2 separate regions of the Homo sapiens genome follow, and region 2 is reported to be linked to region 1. The links are microRNA targets in miRTarBase. Many come from high-throughput screens and were not tested one by one. Region 1 holds a microRNA gene; the other region holds the end of a gene's coding sequence.
The links. The annotated mature microRNA hsa-miR-8082 reads UGAUGGAGCUGGGAAUACUCUG and lies in region 1 at 1,304-1,325, opposite strand. An mRNA with a match to its seed (bases 2 to 7 or 8) in the 3' UTR can be bound and repressed. Matches are read on the target gene's strand: a 7mer-m8 pairs with bases 2 to 8, a 7mer-A1 pairs with bases 2 to 7 and ends in A, and an 8mer does both.

Region 1 (3,000 bases):
TGTAAGAATGCATAAAAAGCTGAATATCATAAGCCATTTTTTAAAAGAAATGATTATGTATTATAGATGGTATAGACAAATCTGTGAAATATATACCTTACTAATATAAAATTGTTAAATGTCTTTTATTCCTGAAAAATACTCTTTTTCTTTTGTAACTCTGGGGAAAAGTTCATATGTAACAACCAGTGGTTTTCAAAAAGGAAAGATTTTCACAAATTTTTCTATGTACTTCTGTTTTACTAGGTATCTTAGAAGATGCTTTCTAATATCCTTCAGAAAGCCAATAATCTAGAAAGGTATGACACAAAAGTAGCAAATATAAAGGTACTTCAGCTCTAGTTCTAATATATTATTTGTGACTTGTGAGAGATCCAATTTAAGTACACAATGTGTTTATTTAATAGAGTTGCTGTACTAGAATATGGAAATTCCTACAGTATCAAACAGAATCTATGATTTACTTCAAAGCCCCCTTTTGGAACTCATTGATGACTGAGGAAGGTAAAGAGTACAGAAAAAAAAAAAGACTGAAATTTAAATAAACTGTATGTCAGCAACACTTAAACTCATCAAAAACACAGTTTCAATTTATAATCTCTACTATTACACAGCTGGCTTTCACATAGCTTTAAGAAACAATTCATTAGCTCAAAGCCACCATTGAAATTATTATACTTCTGTCAATCATTGTAAGATTTTTACTATTTTTTTTTGAGACAGCATCTTGCCCTGTCACCTAGGCTGGAGTGCAGTGGTACAATCAAGGCTCACTGTACCCTCAATTTCCTGGCCTGAAGAGTTCCTCCCAGCTCAGCCTCCCAAATAGCTGGGTCCACAGGTGCACACCATCAAACTTAAAAAAAAATTAATATAGAGACAGAATCTCCCTGTGTTGCCCAGGTTGATCTCAAACTCCTGGGCACAAGTGATCCTCCTGCCTCAGCCTCCCAAATTGCTGGAATTACACGTATACTTCTTATAAGGAAGTATTAAAGAAAGGCACAAAAAAGTTTTACTATAGTCACATAAGCCCACACAAATATGATATGAAGGTCAGCTTTGAAAAATCAAACACGTAAAATTTTGACAATCAAATGTGATATAATATGCCTAAGATTTCACAGAGAAACCCTTAAATAAAAATAAAGAATTCAGGAAACAAGTCAATCTATCTTGTGGCATAATAAGTTTTGATTAAAGGGGCATAAAATCCAAAACAGCAACTAAAAGTGAGTAAGAGGCACAGCAGATGTCTGTGTGGGAAGGAAGCAAAATACAGCTGAAAAGAGGACTCTCTCCCCAGAGTATTCCCAGCTCCATCATCACACAGGCGACCTTGAAAAAGCCACTATAGGGACAGTGGAACTAATCTTATTAAATATAGCAGAAGAGATATTATTCAAAAGTTATTACATAGTTCAAGTAAATACAAATACTTGGTTTGGATATACCTCATTATAAAAAAAATAAATAGATAATGCTTAACATTACAATGTAATCTTTCTTTCCTTCTTTTTTCTTTTTTTTTTTTTTTCTTTTTTTTTTTTTGAGACAGAGACTTGCTCTGTCACCCAGGCTGGAGTGCAGTGGTGTAATCTTGGCTCACTGCAATCTCCACCTCCTAGGCTCAAGTGATCCTCCCACCTCAGCCCCCCAGTAGCTGGAATTACAGATGTGTGCCAGCACACCTAGTAATTTTTTTTTTTTTTTTTGTAGAGATGGGGTTTCACTATGTTTCCCAGGGGGTCTTGAACTCCTGGGCTTAAGTGATCCTCCCACCTCAGCCTCCCAAAGTGCTGAGATTACAGGTGTGAGCCATGGTGCCCAGCCTACCTTCACCAAATTTCTTTAAAATGTAACCATTGCATTTTATGTACAACTTGATATAGAGAATAACAATTCAAGAAAATGTCTACTACTTTCTATAGTAAATATGTTTTATACATATATTTTATACCAATGCTGTGGTTTCCATATTTGACTCTGCAAACCTCAAGTTGAAATGTGATCCCCAATATTGGAGGCAGAGCCTAATAAAAGGTGTTTAGATCATGAGGGTGGACCCTCATGAATGGCTTAGTGCCATTCTGGTGATAAGGAGTGAGTTTTTGCTGTATTAGTTCCTATGAGAGTTCCCCTGATGGCTGATCATTAACAAGAGCCTGGCACCTCCCCCTGGTTTCTGTACACACCAGCTCTCCTACCCTTTCCTCCGTGAGTGGAAGCTTCCTGAAGCCCTCACCAAAAGCAGATGCTGGTGCAATGCTTCTTGTACAGCTTGCAGAACTGTGATCCAAATAAACCTCTTTTCTTTATAAATTACCCAGCTTCGGGTATTCTTTTGTAGCTACACAAATGAACTACGACAACAAGTAATGTGTGCAATTGCAGTAAGGGTACATTCCTTTTTTGAGCAGAAGGTTATAATTAAAACTTCTTAGTTACCAACGTCTTTACTGTTTTTAGAAGTGTTTTTTTGCTTCCATCACCTTTTCAATGTTGGCGGCCTCTGGTTTCATCTGGGGGCATGTCACCTGTAGTGGGAAAATTCCCATAAATAGATTTGCTACTTTGGGTGATTTCCTAGTCATTAATTCATTCATTTTTTTCACAAATATTTACTAAGTACCTATTAGCTGGTAGGAACTTCAAAGAAAATAGAGCTTATGATATGCAGACTACAACCTAATTGATTCTCCTAAAACAGCCTTTGGTCAATGGCCTTTCACTAGTATATAGTTCAAATTCTAAATCTTGACTTATGAATCTCTTGATAATCTTAGCCTATGTGCCTCATCTAAATTTTGGGGGTTCCACAAATGTCCAGTAGAAATGGTATTATAGCCATTGCTTTCCAGTCTTTCTAATGAGTCCAATACTGAGTGTGTGAACTTCCCATAATGCTTCAGGACTTAACTTTTCTGCCACCCTCTGAGGCTGAGTTGTCATCCTGAAGTACTCTATAATCCCCTGTGCTTTCTCAGGACATGGGAACAC
Region 2 (3,000 bases), not on the chromosome of region 1:
GTCATGTGCCTGTAGTCCCAGCTACTCAGAAGGCTAAGACAGAATGATCACTTGAGCGTGGGAGTCCCAGACCAGACTGGGCAACACAGTGAGACCCCATCTCTAAAAAAATGAAAAAATAAAATTATTAATTAGTGTCTCTATTCAGGAGATATTTTAACTTGAGGTTATTCTATTTCCTTTTGTCATAAGACTAACGGGTCTCTCAGTGTTTCTCACTTTTTGTTATTGATACCCAAAGATTATCATGTACGTACCAAAATGCTCTTTTATCTGTTAAAACCAACATACTGCTTATTGATTAAAAGTAAATCCTACTTTTCTTTCAGAGACTAATAGATTGGAATATATTTTTGTTTCAGCTTTCTGATGAGTTAAAAAGGTCCCAGAGATATATAGACACTGGAGTACTGGAAATTGAAAAACGAAAATCGTGTGTGTTTGAAAAGAAGAATGCAACTTGTATATTTTGTATTACCTCTTTTTTTCAAGTGATTTAAATAGTTAATCATTTAACCAAAGAAGATGTGTAGTGCCTTAACAAGCAATCCTCTGTCAAAATCTGAGGTATTTGAAAATAATTATCCTCTTAACCTTCTCTTCCCAGTGAACTTTATGGAACATTTAATTTAGTACAATTAAGTATATTATAAAAATTGTAAAACTACTACTTTGTTTTAGTTAGAACAAAGCTCAAAACTACTTTAGTTAACTTGGTCATCTGATTTTATATTGCCTTATCCAAAGATGGGGAAAGTAAGTCCTGACCAGGTGTTCCCACATATGCCTGTTACAGATAACTACATTAGGAATTCATTCTTAGCTTCTTCATCTTTGTGTGGATGTGTATACTTTACGCATCTTTCCTTTTGAGTAGAGAAATTATGTGTGTCATGTGGTCTTCTGAAAATGGAACACCATTCTTCAGAGCACACGTCTAGCCCTCAGCAAGACAGTTGTTTCTCCTCCTCCTTGCATATTTCCTACTGAAATACAGTGCTGTCTATGATTGTTTTTGTTTTGTTGTTTTTTTGAGACGGTCTCGCTGTGTCACACAGGCTGGAGTGCAGTGGCGTGAGCTCGGCTGACTGCAAACTCTGCCTCCCAGGTTTAAGCGATTCTCCTGTCACAGCTTCCCAAGTAGCTGGGATTTACAGGTGTGCACCGCCATGCCAGGCTAATTTTTGTGTTTTTAGTAGAGACAGGGTTTCGCCAAGTTGTCCAGGCTGGTCTTGAACTCCTGGGCTCAAGTGATCCGCCCGCCTCAGTCTCCCAAAGTGCGAGGATGACATGTGTGAGCTACCACACCAGCAATGTCTATGCTTCTCGATAGCTGTGAACATGAAAAGACATCTATTGGGAGTCCGAGGCAGGTGGATTGCTTGAGGCCAGGAGTTAGAGACCAGCCTGGCCAACAAGGCAAAACCCCGTCTCTACTAAAAATATGAAAATTAGCTGGGCTTGGTGGCTCATGCCTATAATCCTAGCTACTTGGGAGGCTGAGGCACGAGACTTGCTTAATACCTGGGAGGCGGAGATTGCAGTGAGCCGAGATCACGCTACTGCGCTCCAGCCTGAGTGATAGAGTGAGACTCTGTCTCAAAAAAAAGTATCTCTAAATACAGGATTATAATTTCTGCTTGAGTATGGTGTTAACTACCTTGTATTTAGAAAGATTTCAGATTCATTCCATCTCCTTAGTTTTCTTTTAAGGTGACCCATCTGTGATAAAAATATAGCTTAGTGCTAAAATCAGTGTAACTTATACATGGCCTAAAATGTTTCTACAAATTAGAGTTTGTCACTTATTCCATTTGTACCTAAGAGAAAAATAGGCTCAGTTAGAAAAGGACTCCCTGGCCAGGCGCAGTGACTTACGCCTGTAATCTCAGCACTTTGGGAGGCCAAGGCAGGCAGATCACGAGGTCAGGAGTTCGAGACCATCCTGGCCAACATGGTGAAACCCCGTCTCTACTAAAAATATAAAAATTAGCTGGGTGTGGTGGCAGGAGCCTGTAATCCCAGCTACACAGGAGGCTGAGGCACGAGAATCACTTGAACTCAGGAGATGGAGGTTTCAGTGAGCCAAGATCACACCACTGCACTCCAGCCTGGCAACAGAGCGAGACTCCATCTCAAAAAAAAAAAAAAAAGTAAGAAAGAAAAGGACTCCCTTAGAATGGGAAAGAAAAATCATAAAATATTGAGCTGATGCCTGTATATAGAAATTAAGCGTTTCTCGAAAGCTGTTCTATGTTTTGCTGTTATTTTAGTCTTTATTCTCTTCCTTTAGGTGGAGAAACAAAGTACCAATTTGAAGGGATTTTTTTTATTTTGTCTTTTGGTTTCTGTCAGTAGAAATAACCATATGTGCTAACCAAATTTCTGTGAAGAATGTTTTCATGGTTATCATTATATCTAACTATAACCTCCCCCATAGTTATGAAGAGTAACCTGAAATGCCACTATTGTGGAAATAGGATAATTGTAATTGTGAAAAAATAATTTTAAGGAAATCTTACAAGTATTACATTAAAAAGATACTATGACTGCCACCTGCCATTTACCTTCTAATAACCCTGCCATGTGGTTTGCAGAAAGAGATGGATATAGTAGCCTCAGAAGAAATATTTTATGTGGGTTTTTTGTTTTTCGTTACTAGATTTCATGGATGAGGGGATATGGTTGACCTTTTACTTTTTAATGGAGCAGCCAGTTTTTGTTAATTACTCACTTGTAAATTGTGAGATTCTGAATTCCTTACCTGCTATTCTTGTACTTGTCTCAGGCCAAATCTATGCTGTGGTTCTTATGAGACTTGTATGAAGATGCCCTGATTTGTACAGATTGACCACGGGAATACTACTGCCATGTAATCTGTATAGTTCCAGATAATTTGTCATGAACATTGACAGAATGACAATTTTTTGTATTTGCTTTTTCTCCCTTTAAGAGCACATTCTTCTGTAAGGAGAAAGGCAGCATTCTGGCTAAAATGTG

Region 2: the mRNA of MAGT1 is a reported target of hsa-miR-8082. Seed matches in the 3' UTR shown: 7mer-m8 at 2,129-2,135.

Annotation. Positions count from the first base shown.
Region 1 is chr4:113,150,617-113,153,616 of GRCh38, reverse strand. It overlaps MIR8082 (microRNA 8082), which reads right to left and starts at 1,335; the gene lies at 1,255-1,335. The region is part of intron 1 of ANK2 (ankyrin 2); the gene reads right to left.
Region 2 is chrX:77,826,598-77,829,597 of GRCh38, reverse strand. It overlaps MAGT1 (magnesium transporter 1), which reads left to right. Exons shown (of 10, transcript NM_001367916.1): 10 at 363-3,000. The coding sequence ends at 378. Among named protein-coding and RNA genes, the nearest start is that of ATRX, 42 kb to the right of the region's middle.